Homo sapiens: one gene and its partner. The protein of the gene in region 2 binds, or shares a complex with, the protein of the main gene of each other region. Each region holds a gene or a part of one and is shown on either strand. Other genes may lie near its edges.

Region 1 (8,111 bases), on a different chromosome or scaffold from region 2:
GGCGACAGAGCCATTTTTTACTTGTCTCAAAAAAATAAGTAAGGGCCTGGTGTGGTTGCTCACACCTGTAATCCCAGCACTTTGGGAGGCCGAGGCAGGCGAATCACTTGAGCCCAGGAGTTCGAGACCAGCCTGGCCAAAATGGTAAAACCCTATCTCTACTAAAAATACAAAAGTTAGCCAGGCATGGTGGGGGGCACCTGTAATCCCAGCTACTCAGGAGGCTGAGGCAGGAGAATTGCTTGAACCCAGGAGGCAGAGGTTACAGTGAGCCGACATTGTGCCACTGCACTCCAGCCTGGGCAACAGAGCGAGACTCCGTCTCAAAAAAAAAAAAAAAATTAAAAAATAAAACCCATAGAATGTCTAACACCAAGAGTGAACTTTGGGTGATAATGATGCATCAGCATAGGTTTATCAATTGTAATAATTTATATTATTCTGGTGTGGGACATTGATAGTGTGGGATGCATGTGTGATATGGGCACTGTACTTCCTGCTAAATTTTGTCGTGAACCTAAAACTGCTCTGAAATCAAAGTCTGTTTAGAAGGAAAAACAGTTGAGTATATCATGTGTAGAACACCCCAAGATTTGGAATGGGACATCTAAGGGTAGACTCTTGAGACTAAGAATGAAACAGAACTGGCATGAATTGAAGCCCAGCTTTGAGAATTCTGGCAGGTAGAAAATCTCAGTCCCTAAAATTGGATTAAGGTGACTCTGGGTTCCTAGTGCCCTAGGACAAAACTCCTCTCTGAAGGAAGAAAATATTGTTATTACAGATTATTTCAGCAAAGTTTCAAACACAGTGCCCAGCACGTAATCAAAGATAATGAGGAGATAATGTGAATGAGAATCAAAAAAAGCAAGTGCCTCCAGGGGCTCTAGAATGATCAGAAACAGGATCTAAAATAACCATGTTAATTATTGTTAAGGTATATAGAGAATGTCAACTGAGAATTTGAATTGTTAACAAGGACATAGCAAATTTGAAAAAGACCAATAGAAATTGTAGGACTGAAAAACTATAATACAGATTAAGAATTATATGGGCCGGGCGTGGTGGCTCAAGCCTGTAATCCCAGGACTTTGGGAGGCCGAGGCGGGTGGATCACGAGGTCAGGAGTTCAAGACCAGCCTGGCCAACATGGTGAAACCCCGCCTCTACTAAAAATACAAAAAAATAATTAGCCAGGTGTGGTGGCACGTGCCTGTAGTCCCAGCTACTCAGGGAGGCTGAGGCAGAGAATTGCTTGAACTTGGGAGGTGGAGGTTGCAGTGAGCCGAGATTGTGCCGCTGCACTCCAGCCAGGGCGACAGAGCGAGAATTTGTCTCAAAAAAAAAAAAAAAAGAACTACTGCTGCTCTAGCTTATTTCAGCTTACTCTCCGACCTTCAATTTAGATGTTATTTATGTATTTATTTTGGAAGCTTTTCCTGACTAACTTGCTTGGATGTAGGCTCCCTTAATAATCCTCTTCACCTATTACTAGCAGCTCTTTTCAAGGCCATTGTATTTTTTTTTAATGTAATGGTTTTACTGAGATAATTAGCTTATACTGCTCACCTCTTTAAAATATATAATTTTTAGTATATTCATATAGCTGTGCAACCATCACCAATCAATTTTAGAGCATTTTCATCACTTCCAAAAGGAACTCTGTACCCATCAGCAGTCACTCTCCATTTTCTCCCTAATCCCTCAGCCCTAGTAGGAGGCTGGAGCAGTAGCTCACTAATGTTGCTTTGAACATTAGTGTACATGTTTTTGTTATATGTTTTATTTTTATTTTTAGAAACAGAGTGTATTAGTCTGTTCTCACATTGCTGTAAAGAGCTGCCTTAGACTGGGTAATTCATGAAGAAAAGAGGTTTAATTGACTCATAGGTCTGCAGGCCTAACCGGAAGCATGACTGGAAGCCCTCAGGAAACTTACAATCATGGACCAAGGCAAAGGGGAAGCTATCACCTTCTTCACACGAGAGCAGGAGAAAAAGACTGTGAAGCGGAAAGTACTACGCACTTTTAAGCAACCAGATCTCGTGAGAAGTCACTCACTATATTGAGAACAGCAAGGGGAAAATCTGTCCCCATTATTCACTCACCTCCCAAGTCCCTCCCCCAACACTGGGAATAACAACTGGACATGAGATTTGAGTGGGGACACAGAGCCAAACCATATCACAGGGTCTCACTATGCTGCCCAGGCTAGAATGCAATCATAGCTCACTGTAATCTTGAACTCTTGGCCTCAAGGTATCCTCCTGCCTTGGCCTCCCAAAGTGCTGGGATTATAGGCATGTGCCACTGAGTCTGGAATGGATATATGTTTTCAATTCTCTCGGGTATATACCTAGGAGTGAAATTTCTGGGTCTTATGGTGACTTTATGTTTTACAATTTTGGGAACTGACAGACAGTTTTTCAAAACTTTTTTTTTTTGAGACAGGGTCTTGCTGTGTTGTCCAGGCTATATAGTGCATTGGCTCACAGGCTTGATCATAGCATAGCACACTGAGGCTTCCACCTCGTGGCCTCAAGGGATCCTTCTGCCTCAGCCTCCCAAGTAGCTAGGACTATAGGCCAGTGCCACCATGCCTAGCCTAAAGCATTTTATATTCCTACTAACAGGGTATAAGGGTTCTAATTTCTCCATAGCCTTGTCAACACTTGTTATTTTCTGTCTTTTTGAACATAGCCCTTCTAGTGGGTATAAAGTGGTATCTCCTTGTTTTTTTTTTTTTTTTTTTTTTGAGACTGAGTCTCGCTCTGTCACCCAGTAACAAGCTGGAGTGCAATGGTGTGATCTCAGCTCACTGCAGCCTCCTCCGCTTCCCAGGTTCAAGCGATTCTCCTGCCTCAGTCTCCCGAGTAACTGGGATTACAGGCCTGAGCCACCAAGCCTGGCTAGCTTTTGCATTTTTAGTAGAGATGGGGTTTCACCATATTGGCCAGCCTGGTCTCCAACTCCTGATCTCAAGTGATCTGCCCGTCTTGGCCTCCCAAAGTGCTGGGATTACAGGTGTGAAGCACCACGCCTGATTGTTTTTTTTTTTTGAGACAAGGTCTTACTCTGTTGCCCAGGCTGGAGTGGAGTGGGATGATCTTGGCACACTGCAACATGTTGCCCAGGCTGGTCTTGAACTCCTGGGCTCAAGAGATCTGCCCACCTGGGCCTCCCAAAGTGCTGGGATTACAGGTGTGAGCCACGGTGCCCGGCCTCCTTGTGTGTGTGTTTTTTGGTTTTTTTTTTTGAGATGGTGACCAAAAAAACACAACAACAAACAACAAACAAAAAACAAAACGAAGTCATTCTTTTGCATGTGAATGTCCAGCAGTGGTAGTACCAACTGTTGAAAAGACTGTTCTTTCACCATTGATTTGTCTTGGTGTTTTTGTTGATGTAAATGTGAGGGTTATTGATTTATTTCAGGATTCTCAATTCTATTTGTTTATATTCTTATCCTCCATGAGTATGCCCGTAGGGCCACTGTGTATGCCAGTAGGGCCATTGTGTTTTACAGAAGAAATCTAAGAAGAATCATTCTTTTTTTTTTTTCCATTAAAAGTCATGTTTACTAATCTAGCACCACAATTCGTCTTAGAACCTCCCATGCAGTTGGAAAGGGAATATGGGAAGAGGTGAGTATGTTGGAAATGTAGGGTAGTTCTCAAATTGAGGCCCCATTTTGCTTGCTCTAAAGCCAAAAACACAGGGTCTAGCAAAGAGGAGCCCAGAGGCTGGAGATGAAAACAAAAGCTTTTGGTTCAGATGGTAAAGGAGGCCCTCAAGAGCAGTAGAATCAGTATATCCCGAAGGCAGTGCTGGAGGCATTCTCATGAAGTAGGGGGTTTCTTCTTGGCATCCAAGTCCTTTTTAATTTCTTCAAGTTTTTTAGCCAGGTTTGGTATGTCATAGTTCTGAGCCAGATACATTCCAACCACGTTGCCCAATGTAAATCCAAGCAGGAATTGGAGCATGATGTTGGTGGGGAGGGCGAGGAGGGCGCAAAGGGCTGCTGCAGCTCTGCAGGCCGGTCAGAGCCTGCTTCCCCATGCGAGGGGAGCGGAATCGCCCCCCCCGCCACCTTTTTTTTTTTGAGAGGGAGTTTCACTCTTGTCGCCCAGGCTGCAGTGCAATGGCGCGGATCTCGGCTCACTGCAACCTCCGCCTCCCGGGTTCAAGCGATTCTCCAGCCTCAGCCTCCCTAGTAGCTGGGATTATAGGCGCCAGCCACCACGCCCGGCTAATTTTTGTTATTTTTAGTAGAGACGTGGTTTCACCGTGTTGGCCAGGCTGGTCTCGAACTCCTGATCTCAGGTGATCCGCCCGCCTCGGCCTCCCAAAGTGCTGGGATTATAGGCGTGAGCCACAGCGCCCTGCCAAGAAGAATCATTCTTTAACCTTAACTCAAAGCAACCAATTCAAGGGTTGGAATTACTCACTCCCCATTTAGAACTTTCAGCAGCGGTCTTTAGCATCAGTAGCCGTCAAGATTGTGTTGGGTCGTTGCTTTCTTGTTGTTTTAAATCACGGTCATGTGTTTGGCAAGGGTGCTGGTTAACCGAAAATGTTGGTTCTAGAGCTAGAAGTACTGGCATTCAAATAAACATATTTGGGGGTTGGGGGTTGATGAGCAAGGCTGGGAGGAGACAAAAGAAGTATCTCGGCTCAGTCGTCAGAGACGCGCAAGGTGTAACGGAGAGAGCAATCTAGGTTGTGAGAGTGGCTCCAAACATTGAGACATGGAGCCAGGACCTTTGCTCCTGGGGGATGGCCCTAGTACTGATGCGCAGGACCTGGTCCTTGAAGGAGCTGACAAAACTGCCGTTCACCCGCGCGACCACCGGCAAAGCAGCTCCACAGCCTGCCCCTCCCCTTGGCTGCTCCCCCACCCATTTCCCGCCTTGTCTTTCCTCTCTTCTCTCTCTCCCTCCTCCCTGCGCGAAGCGGAAGTGACGCGAGGCGTAGCGGAAGTTACTGCAGCCGCGGTGTTGTGCTGTGGGGAAGGGAGAAGGATTTGTAAACCCCGGAGCGAGGTTCTGCTTACCCGAGGCCGCTGCTGTGCGGAGACCCCCGGGTGAAGCCACCGTCATCATGTCTGACCAGGTACCGGGCTGGGAGCCATCCAACGGCGGTGGCCAGGGCCTTCCCTGCAGGTCTGCCTGCCGCTAGGCTGGGGTCGGGGATGGAGGCGCGGGGGAGGGGAGCGCGGAATGGGGGAGGGGGCGGCCGGTGGGGACTAGGCAGGCGAGGGAGAGGAGCCGACTACGGCCGGAGGTGCCGGGGCCTGCTGCGGGGCTCCCGGAGCCGCCCGCCCCTCTCCGGGCTCGCTCATCACCCCCGTACCCCACCGCCTTTGGTGGCGGCCTCCCTCATGTCGTCCCACTTCTTTCTCCCGGGTCGACTAGGTGCAGAGCCCCGCTTCCACCTCCCTGGGAGGGTCTCTGGAGAACCCGTCCGTCTCCTTCCAGAGGACTAATCGCAGAAGCAGGGCCCTAGGCCTTAGTTATGTAACGGGAGAGAATCCCTGACTGGGAGGCTCCGTGGCCCTGAGAAGCGGCTGGACTCTCCACTTTTTGCTTCTTCGTCGGGAGGGCGTGGGGCGGCGAGGGAGGGAGACGTCCGATGTTGTTGGGAATCCTGCCTCCGTTCGGATTGGAGCTAGGGCAAGGATGCCGCTGCTCTCCTCTGAGTCTTTTTCCGTGTGGGGGTGCAGAGCTGTCGCCTCTTTACTGTACTTTCCCGTTTCTTACTCGGGATTGGTTCATCCTAGCTCTCCAGTTGTAAGAGAGCATTCATAATAACCAAGAAAGAAAATAGAACTAAACTGCTAGAGCAACAAAAAGCATCTCACCTGGGCATTAACCTGAGGAAGTCTCATATTTTTGAGGAAAAGCATAGGAAAACTTTGTGTATGTAGAGTCGTTGCAGAATATTTGCAGAAAGTTGCCTGGTAAGGCAAAGTGCTCCAGCTCACTGTTAGTATCAATAATTTACTTGGGATTTGCACTTAATCAGGAGTGATCGATTTCCCCTTTTCTTCCTCATCCTGTTCTAATTAAACAACTTTATGGCTAGTTTTTAATTCATAAAGTTTTTGTCTGGTCTTTTGTTTGCTCAGACGACTTTGACTTTTTTTTTTTTTTGAGACGGAGTCTCGCTGTGTCGCCAGGCTGGAGTGCAGTGGTGCGATCTCCACTCACTGCACCCTCCCGCCTCCTGGGTTCAAGCAATTTTCGGGCCTCAGCCTCCCGAGTAGCTGGGATTACAGGCACTCACCACCAGGCACTCACCACCACACCTAGCTAATTTTTGTATTTTTAGTAGAGACGGGGTTTCACCATATTGGCCAGGCTGGTCTCGATCTCCTTACCTCGTGATCCGCCCACCTCGGCCTCCCAAAGTGCTGGGATTACGGGCGTGAGCCACCGCGCCCAGCCGACTTTGACTTTTTACATTATTTTTGGACTTTTACTCATTTAATGGTAGTTATTCAGAAAACTATTTTTCATTCAACTCCACGATGTACTTGAACTTTTAAATTTAACACACCTATTCCCTTGGCTTTTAACCCAGTTTTGTACCATTTCGTGAGAGCAAGTGAGGTTTTTGCAGATTGGTACTATTGTACAAAATGTACACTTAACATTTTAAAGCTTAACCATAATCTAGATGAATTTTGGATGGATCTACTTACTAATAATCTAGATTAATTCCCAAGTGGGCATTGTGTTTCCCTAGGTAGTTGTTTACTTGGTTACTAGGAAGAAAAGTATAGGCGTAAATGCTTAGTTTCGTCAGCCTTTTATTTTGTTTCCCAGAAGCGTCTAGGAAGCATTTTGAAATTTATTGTAGACTGATGGAAGAGCAACATAAAGAAATAATTATAAAATGTAGAATTTATTGCTCCATTTTGAAGTCAGGTTATTTAAGAGATACATAAAGAAATGAAGGACCTAGGATACAAATAGATTCTTTTATTTCATGTTCATACTAGGACATTATTTGTCTTTTTCACTGTCATTCTTTCATGAGTGTTCAATGGACGTTTCTAGAAACTAACATGACTTGTGATAAAACAAATTAAATGTGGAAGCAGATGTGAAAATCCAGCTGTTTAGCTGTTTTTATTAAGCCAGACATTAAAGAGATTTGCAAAAATGTGTAACAGTCCCACTCTTTCATTAATTTTGTTTTGAAAAATATTTTTAATAAAAATATATATTTGTTAACATATAACAGGTTTGTTGGTATTTTAAAATGAATTAATATTTAAGACATTTCTCAGTTTTCAGTGTTTAATACTGTAAACATCAATAGATGTAACCAACCTAACAAAAGCTTTATGGGATTCTAAATAAATTTAAGTGTAAGATTCCTGAGAACAAAAAGTTTGAGAACTGTTGCTGTAGGCTGATTGACCAACATCATTAGGACTCGCCGGGTGCAGTGGCTTAAGCCTGTAATCCCAGCACTTTGGGAGGTCAAGTTGGGTGGATCACGAGGTCAGGAGTTCTAGACCAGCCTGACTAACATGGTGAAACCCCGTCTCTACTAAAAATACAAAAAATAGCCAGGCGTGGTGGTGCGCACCTGTAATCCCAGCTACTCAGAAGGCTGAGGCAGGAGAACTGCTTAAACCCGGGAGGCGGAGGTTGCAGTAACTGGAGATCACTCCACTGCACTCCAGCCTGGGCGACAGAGTGAGACTCCGTTTAAAAAAAAAAAAAAGACTCAGTACATTGGCCGGGTGCAGCGCCTCACACCTGTAATCCTGGCACTTTGGGAGGCCTAAGTGGGGGAGGATTGCTTGAGCCCAGTTTGAGACCAGCCTGGGCAATATAGAGAGACGTCGTCTCTACAAAAAATAAAATTAGCCAGGCATGATGGCCTGTACCTGTAGTCCCAGCTACTCAGGAGGTTGATATGGGAGGATCACCTGAGCCTGCGAGGTCGAGGTTGCAGCAAGCCAAGATCATGCCACTGTACTTCAGCCTGGGCGATAGAGACCCTGACTCAAAACAAAGAAGACCCAGTACAAGTTCAGTGTTGAGTGCTAAAGACTTAAAAGAGTTATAAAGCTGAACCCTTAATCTTAAGAGGTT
Region 2 (8,245 bases):
GTGCCTCGAAGCACTTGGCGCAGAGGAGCTGCTCGCACTCAAAGCACCAGAAGTCGGCCGACTCTTTGCAGCGGGTGCACACAGCCTGCGCATCCACAATCTGCCGGTACACCGACAGGCGCCGCTGCAGACTCTCGAAAAAGACGTTATCCAGGGCGGGTGTGTCTGCACCTAGGGGCCAGGGCGCCTGGCAGATGGGGCACTGCATGCCCGACGCCTCCAGGCATCCTGAGCACAGCGTGTGCAGACAAGGCAGCAGCTTCGGGCACTTGGCTTCCGCCTGGCATTGCTGGCAGCGCAGAAACTGGAACTCCTCCTCCGAAGCGGGGGCTCGCTGGGGGACCAGAGAGGCAGGTGAGGCCTGGAGAAGTCCCAAAAGCCCCCACCTACCGGCCAACCACCCTTACAGCTGGACCCTGGAGTAGGACCTCATATTCCATTCCAGCCAGTCATTGGATGATGCAAAACCCTGGCTTATCAGCACCCCAATACCCCCATTTATTCAGGCCCTCCAGCTCTCACTGCACCATTTATTGAGCATCTACTTCTCATCACCCACAGTAATAGGCTCTGAGATATAAGAGGTGTAGGATACATTCTGCCTTCAAGGAACTCAGTTTGGAAGGTAGATACACTAAGTACCAACCTCATATAAAGTGCTTAATGCACAGTTTGGGGGTTCATTAAAGAGGTAAGCATGGAACAACAATATGACCCAGAAATTCCACTCTTAGATATATAACCAAAAGATGTAAAAACAAGGCCCAAACAGATACTTGTACAACAATGTCCACAGCAACACTATTCACAATAGACAAAATGTAGAAACAATCCAAGTATCCATCAACAGATGAATAGATAAACAAAATGTGGTCTACACATATAATGGAATATTACTCAGCGTTAGAAAGAAATGAAATTCTGATACATGCTACAACATAGATAGACCTCAATGACATTATGCTAAGTGAAATAAGCCAGTCACAAAAGGTCAAACACTGTATGATTCTGAGGCAGGAGAATAGGGTCTGGAGGCAGGGAACCTAAGGCCGATTCCCTCTGACTTCCTAGAACTAAATCGAAAGGAAAACCGCAACTCTCCATGCCTCAGTAACAAAAGGAAGAGAGGCTACTCTCTTTGCAAATCACCCCATTTCCTGCAGGGCAGATGGAAAATTGAAAGTACGTCTGGTTGGTTGCTTTCTGCAACCAATGGGGTGAACACCAAGTGGCCAATGGGAAACCTCTAGGGGGTATTTGGAACCCAGAAGATTCTGTAACTGGGGTCCTTGAGCCCTGCTCTAGCCGCTCCCACCCTGTGGGGTGTACTTTCATTTTCAATAAATCTCTGCTTTCATTGCTTCACTCTTTCCTTGCTTTGCTGTACATTTTGTCCAATTCTTTGTTCAAAATGCCAAGAACCTGAACAATTTGCAGTCAAGATCCTCTACTGGTAACAATTCCACTTACATGAAATATCTAGAATAAGTAAGTTCATAGGGACAGAAGGTAGATTAGAAGTTACCAAGGGCTAGGGGAAGGAGAAAATGAGGAGCTATTGCATTACTGGGGCTCAGGACACACCACTTCAAAGTATGACTGCAGGAGGCTCTTGAAATATACTTCTTTGGCATATTTTAAGCTGGTTATTCTGAGAAACTGCTGATACAGGAATAGCTCTGAAAAGCTCTCCTTTTGTAAAAAAGAAAGGCATTTATATCTTAAAAGAAAATCTACATTAGTAAAATGATCTATATTAAAAGAGGGCTGCTCCAGACAACTTTTATTATCTAAGAACTTTTAATCTACATAGCAAGACAACCTCTATTCACCAAACAGCTCCTCTCCTCACCCTCCCATAACTTGTGTTATCACCATCACCCAGAAGCTCCAAGCTCTTTTCCGTAGCTCAGGATGTTATACAGGCTTCAATCATCTGACCTTTCTTTGAGTCTCATATATTGTGGGACTCCTGAGTATACATATGTAATTAAATATGGGTTTTCCGCTGGTAATCTATTTTATGACTATTTAATTCATAGGCTATTTAATTCATAGCCCAGCCAAGGAAACTAGAAGGGTGGAGGCAAGCCATCTTTCCCTCCCCTATGGTTTAAAGAGTACAGAGTTTCTGGAGTAATGAAAAAGTTCTGGAAATAGATGGTGGTGATGGTTACACAATATTGTGAATCTACTTAATGCCACTGAATGGTACACTTATAAATGGTTAACATAGGAACTTATCCATTAGGTATATTTTACCACATTTTGTAAAATACAAAAACAGGCCGGGCATGGTGGCTCATGCCTGTAATCCCAGCACTTTGGGAGGCCGAGGTGGGTGGATCACGAGGTCAGGAGTTAGAGACCAATCTGGCCAACATAGTGAAACCCCATCTCTACTAAAAATATAAAAAATAGCCAGGTATGGTGGCGTGGCCTGTAATCCCAGCTACTCGGGAGGCTGAGGCAGGAGAATGGCGTGAACCCGGAAGGAGGAGGTTGCAGTGAGCCGAGATCGCACCATTGCACTCCAGCCTGGGCGACAGTGTGAGACTCCGTCTCAAAAACAAACAGATAAACAAACAAACAAAAAACAAAGCAAAACAAACAAACAACAACAAAAAAAAACCAAAGTGCTTAATACAGTACCTGGCACATTTGAAGTGCTCATAAATGTTACCTAGTATTGTTAAGTAATGTTATTCTTAGTTGTAATAATGTTTATAAAAGTTACTGTAATACGGTGTCCTCTGTACTTTCATGAAGGGGAGTAAAAGGGCCTGAAAGGCAGCAGAGCAAGAAACCCAAGTAGTTCCTTTGTCGGGGGAGGTGGGAGGTGGGCAGGAAAGGTGTGGCAAGAGAAGGGTTCGTTGGGGAGGCTTCCTTAAGCAGAAACCACATGAGCTGGGAGGCCTTGGCAAAGATACCTCTTCAGTCTGAGCCAGTTTCTCACCTCGGATCTGGGAAGTTGGTTTTAGTTTTGCCGTGCCTGGGACATGCCCCTGGCTCCAGGCCAGCGCAACAGGGGTACTACCTCCATCCTCCCTAATCTGAAGTCCTGCATCTGAGGCAAAGTTGAGGCAGGGCTCGAGGGTGGGCGGAAGGGCCCAGGCCCGGAGGCCACTGACCCTTCTCACCTTGCCCAACTGCTCAGTGGAGAAACCGCAGCCCAGCGAGGCCGCCCCAACTCCTCCGTGTCCTCTTTTCTACTCTATCCTACCCTCCCTTCCCTGCCCCACCCGAGACGGTCAGGACCCTGGTGTCTGGACTTCCCGCTTTGTGTCACTCTCTAGGGTACTTGACCAAATCCTCCGTTAGACCCTCTCTTCCCGCCTCTCCCCACCACAGCAAACCAACAAAGCTTAACCCCATCATCCCCTAACCCAATAGTACCTCTGTAGGGCTGGGGCTGGGGCTGGGCTGGCGGCCTTCAGAGGGGGTCTCGGGGGGAGGCATGGTGGGCTCCTGGGGCCGGGCGGGGTCCTGCTGGGGCCTCGGAGATCGGGCGGGTGCAGGCTCCATGGACCCCAGCTTAGTTTCGATTCTCGGTTTAGATCTTGGAGTGCGTGAAGAGAAGCTGAAGGGGAGGCGTGAGCCAGTTGGCTGAGTCCCTTGAGCTGTCCGAAAGGGGAGGTGCCGGCTCAGGGCCCGCCTCTGGAGAGGAAGTGAGACAGAAGCTGGGGGCGGTTCTAGGGGGCAGAGAGGCCGACTGTGGGTTTTAAAGACACGCCCAGAGCGGGGAGGAGGTAGAGGCGGAGAGCTGCAGACCTACCGCTGACTTACGGTAAAGCGGGAGAGGTAGGGCAGAGCTGCAGGGGGGCAGCCCTGCTCCCGGCTTTGATCCATTCATCCGTTCACACTGGCACTGCTTCGTGCCACGTCCTGCCGGGAGCTGGGCGTACAAAGATGAGCCACACGCAGCCCCTGCTTTCTAAGAGCCGTAGATGTAATGGAAGAGCAAGCCTGCAAACGGAGACATTCTGGAAAGGAGAGCCCACAGCTGGGACCTGCAAAAGCAGTGGAAATTCACCAGGGATTTAGGGTTGTAGGTGGTGGGGTACGGGGGACACTTGAAACAGAAAAGATAGCTCTTGCAAAAGCCTGTTTGGGAACTAATTTTGGCCATTTTCAGATTTAAGAGGGAATTCATGAGAAATGATACCCAAGGAGTGTGCTAGGACAAGATCCTAGCTGAGGAGATTGAACCAGTTCTGTGAGTGATGGGAAGTTGCTGAAGGATTTGGAACCAGGGAACAACACGATCAGCTGTGCATGATGGGACAGTCACTCTGACAACCTAGGAGCAGGTGCCCTGGTCTAGGACAGTGGCTGTGGGATGCAGAGGAGGGACTTGATTCAGAGATCCTGGGAAGCCAGTGACTGGAGGTGAGGGAGCAGGATGATGCCTTGAGTGACAGCTGGAAAGGCTGGTGGATCTGAGGTGGTGGGGGCAGGAGGGAGGGGGAGAGCTGGAGAGCGGGTATGAAGAGGGTGAGGGGAGAGCCAGCTAGGTCTTCGCCAATGGAAAAGCATGTCAGACTCCCAGCTGGTAAGGGGAAAGGGGCACAGTTCCAGGTGACCTCACTGGGTCAGCGCCCCGGCTTCAAACTTAAACCATCGCAACCACTGTGCTGGCTCCTGTGTACCCATTCCGTACTCTGTTCCAACTTAGAAACAGACTAGAAAGGATGATGATAGGGCCTGGCTCTTGTAAACCTTACAGTCTGCAGGGTGGAGAGCAGGGGTTGGGCAGATACGCAACTTCCTAGGGACTGTAAGGCCTCAGGAGCCTGCCCTTCCCTCCAGCCTGGTCAGTACTCCCAGGCCTTTAGAGAATCAGTCCATGAAAGCCAAATATGGTGGGCAGCCATCTGCACAAGGGACCTGGAAGTGGGCTATGGCAGGATGGGGCTTCGGAGGCCAGAGGCGATTGGCTGAGGAGGCAGAGCTGGGGAAGCTTTATTCATTTCTTTGCTTGCTTTGGAAGATAGCCTGCTCCCAGACTACCCCAAAGTCCTGTTGGAAGTTAACACTTCTCAAAGGAAATTCACGAGTTGCATTCAGGTTTTCTCAAGCCCTGGAGAGGCAAGTTAATTCCAGGTACCTGGATCAAGGGGCATGCTCTTTCTGGACCTGCAGGACTGAGGGCCTCACCTCTGTGGTGCTCTGGGGCCCCTGCCCTCATGTAGCTCTGTGCTATCCCCTTCTTCCTTACACTCCCATGCTCCCCGAAGTCTGCATGTGAAACTTCTTTCTTTTTGTGCCAAAGTTCAGGCCTTCCTACTCCACCTTGATCACGGTGACCTGGCCAGGCCATTACTTAACAAATAAGTATTGAGACCTGCCCTATGCCAGTCCCTGCTTGCTGGGCTGTGGGTTCACAAAGAGGAATAATTTGCAGACTATGTCCCAGAGAAACCCAAAGTCCAGATATGGCATGTCCTGCCTCCAGTGTGAGAGAAGGAGTGCTGAGAAGGCTGATATAGCATGTCCTTGATCCTGGAGAAGATTGGCTTCCTGTAAACCCTGATGAGATCTTGCTCTCTCGCTCCGACTGCAGTGCAGTGGCACGATCATAGCTCACTGCAGCCTCAAACTCCTGGACTCAAGAGATCCTCCCGCCTCAGCCTCCCAAGTGGCTGGGACCACAGGCAGGCATCCCACGCCAGGCTAATTTTTAAAAATTTTTTGTAGAGATGGGCTCTCACTATGTTGCTCAGGATGGTCCTGAATTCCTGGCCTCAAGCGATCCTCCTGCCTGAGTCTCCCAAATTGATGGATTATAGGAGTGAGCCACCGTGCCCAGCTTCCCCTCCAGCTTTTCTAGGGCTGAGTAGGAGAAGAGGGGAGGAGGCGATGACCCCAGCGGGGTCCGAGGAACGCCGATCACACCCAGTAGCCCTGGGCTGCAGTTCGGTCCTCCCAGCGCAGGGGGAGCCATGCGACGGCGGAAGCGGGCCCCGGCCGGCCTCCTCTTCCTGCGCCCGCGCCGCCGCGGGTGGCCGCGCGGGTGAAGCCGGAAGCAGCAGCCAGGAGGGCGGGGCCGCGTAGGGCCCACTGGCCAGGGAGGGCGCCGCGCGGAGGCGCGGGGCGTGTCTCCTGTCAAAAGCCATGCTCGGCAGGTCTGGGTACCGGGCGCTGCCCCTGGGTGATTTTGACCGCTTCCAGCAGTCGAGCTTCGGCTTTCTGGGCTCGCAGAAGGGCTGCTTGTCCCCGGAGCGGGGCGGCGTGGGGACAGGGGCCGGTGAGTGGCCGCCTGGCACGGCGGAGCCGGGGGGGACCGGCCGGCAACCCCCAGGCCCGAATCTCTGCCTCCGAGGAGTCGGCCGGCCCGGTGCCGTCGCACCCTACGAGGGGGGACTGAGAAAGGGATACGATGTGGAGAGGGGGCTGGACCCGGCGCCTGGTGCTAGCGCCGATCCGCCCTCCCTAGGGTCATGGGGCTTTGGCCCCAGAGCCAGCCAGCGTTGCTCCTATCTTCCAAAACCTCACCTCACCACATTTGTCCTCGGCTCTTATCAGCCCTTTAGGCCTGGGAAGACGTTTCAGGTTTCTATTTCGCATAGAAGAAACCGAGGTCTAGGCAGAGGAGGCCACCAGCACCCTAAAGGCACCTGCTGCAGGGAAATGGAAGAATTTTCGCCCTAGGGGGCACCTCTAGAAGCCCGGGAACTAGGCATCTCCTGGATGTGCAGGCCAAAATGACAGGTCCTCAGCTGCCTGTTGGATCTGCCCTGCTTCTGTCTTGCCCTCAAAGTCTTCTGTGGCTCCTTTGGCCTACAGGCCAGATCCCACGCTGTTCAGCCTAACCGCCTAACCTTGGATTTGATCCCTCCCTGGCCTTCCTGTCCTGAAAGCTCTCCCTATCCAGAAGTCTCTTGAGAGGCCTGGTGGATCAGAGCCAGGCACAAAGTGGAGCCTCAGTGCTCTGGGGCTTAGCCCAGAGGGCAGGGCTTCCTGGAAGAATGGAGCAGGGCTCCCGACTGCTTCCTGTCCAGGGTTGGGAGGAAAGCGGCAAATAACCTCATCCCAGATTCTGGAGCTGTCTCGGCTTTGCTCCCAACTTGGGCTCCTGAATCTCCAGGGGCCAGGACATTTGGCTTGGATAAGCCTCATCTTTCTAGCCCTGCCCCTGACCCCGACCCCTAACAATTTTCTTGAATTGAAATAGGCAGGGTTTTTTTTTGTTTTTGTTTTTTGTTGTTTGTTGTTTTTTTGAGATGGAGTCTCGCTCTGTCCCCCAGGCTGGAGTGCAGTGGCGCCATCTCGTGAAATAGGCATTTTTTAATGGTCATTAAGGCATTAAAGTTGGGTGTGGAATAGAAAATAATAATCTAATTCCTCATCTGTGGCTCCCGTTGATAAGCTATTTATGATTTATCCCTGTAGGCTAAGGCATCATCTTCATAAGGACTCCTGGAAAGCACACTTCTGGGGCTGATGGTATAGGAGGAATGTGTTTTGCCAGCAGTATTCAGTGCATGTTTACAGATGCCCAGGTGCTCCTGGCTCCATGCCAGGTATGGGTAGGCAATATAAATTAAACGAGAGGATTGACCCCTACTCAGTCCAGTGAGGAGAGCATCATCACGCGGACTGGATTCTGAGATTGAATGGCTGTTGCCTAGCAGAGAATAAGGCCTTGTGAGGGTTGTTGGACTTGGGACAAATGAGTGTTGATGTATGGGAGGAGGGAACAGACCCTAACTTGCAGCTGCCCAAAGATACGGGAATATTAGGCAAGGAGCCAGATTGAGAGCCCTGAGAAGGAAGGAGCCTCTCGAGGGGAAGGTGGGCGTAAGGTACACTTGCCCAAGTTCACTCCGCTTGGCAGCTGTCGTGCAGGTCCAGTTGACCACCTCTGCTCTCACCTGCAGATGTACCCCAGAGCTGGCCCTCCTGCCTCTGTCATGGCCTCATCAGTTTCCTGGGGTTCTTGCTGCTGTTGGTCACCTTCCCCATTTCTGGCTGGTTTGCCCTGAAGGTAAGGCTGGCTGGGTCAGCCCCCAGGGTGGTTGGGCCACACTGAGAGCTTTGGCATTGATGAATAAATTTGCCTATCCTCTGTCCCCTTTCCCTAAATATTATTACCCCTTTGTGTAATGGGCTAGGCAAGAACCATTCATTCACATTGGTCAGGGGAGGAAACTAAGGCTTGGGCTTGTCTAAAGTCATACTGGGAGCCAGTAGGGGGTAGAAGCAAGTCCCAAACTCCTAAGTCCTGGGATCTGGACACTGGCTT

Evidence for each region. Proteins that work in one complex are often made in the same cells at the same time.
Region 1: the proteins of PML (region 2) and SUMO1 are in contact, whole or in part, in a crystal structure (PDB 8DJI), measured with the Homo sapiens proteins. Residues at the interface, in NP_150241.2 of Homo sapiens: Glu554, Arg555, Val556, Val557, Val558, Ile559, Ser560, Ser570, Ser571, Ser572, Arg573; in NP_001005781.1 of Homo sapiens: Gly19, Glu20, Tyr21, Ile22, Lys23, Ser32, Glu33, Ile34, His35, Phe36, Lys37, Val38, Lys39, Thr42, Lys46, Leu47, Ser50, Arg54, Glu84.

The regions. Positions count from the first base shown.
Region 1 is NC_000002.12:202,235,441-202,243,551, reverse strand, and holds the start of SUMO1 (small ubiquitin-related modifier 1 isoform a precursor), read left to right. Parts: upstream 1-4,954; 5' UTR 4,955-5,100; coding exon 5,101-5,112; intron 5,113-8,111. UniProt on the Homo sapiens protein: Ubiquitin-like protein that can be covalently attached to proteins as a monomer or a lysine-linked polymer.
Region 2 is NC_000015.10:73,990,093-73,998,337, reverse strand, and holds the start of PML (protein PML), read right to left. Parts: upstream 3,623-8,245; 5' UTR 3,526-3,622; coding exon 3,397-3,525; intron 335-3,396; coding exon 1-334. Other genes in the region: STOML1 (stomatin-like protein 1), read left to right, coding at 6,115-6,247, 7,881-7,987.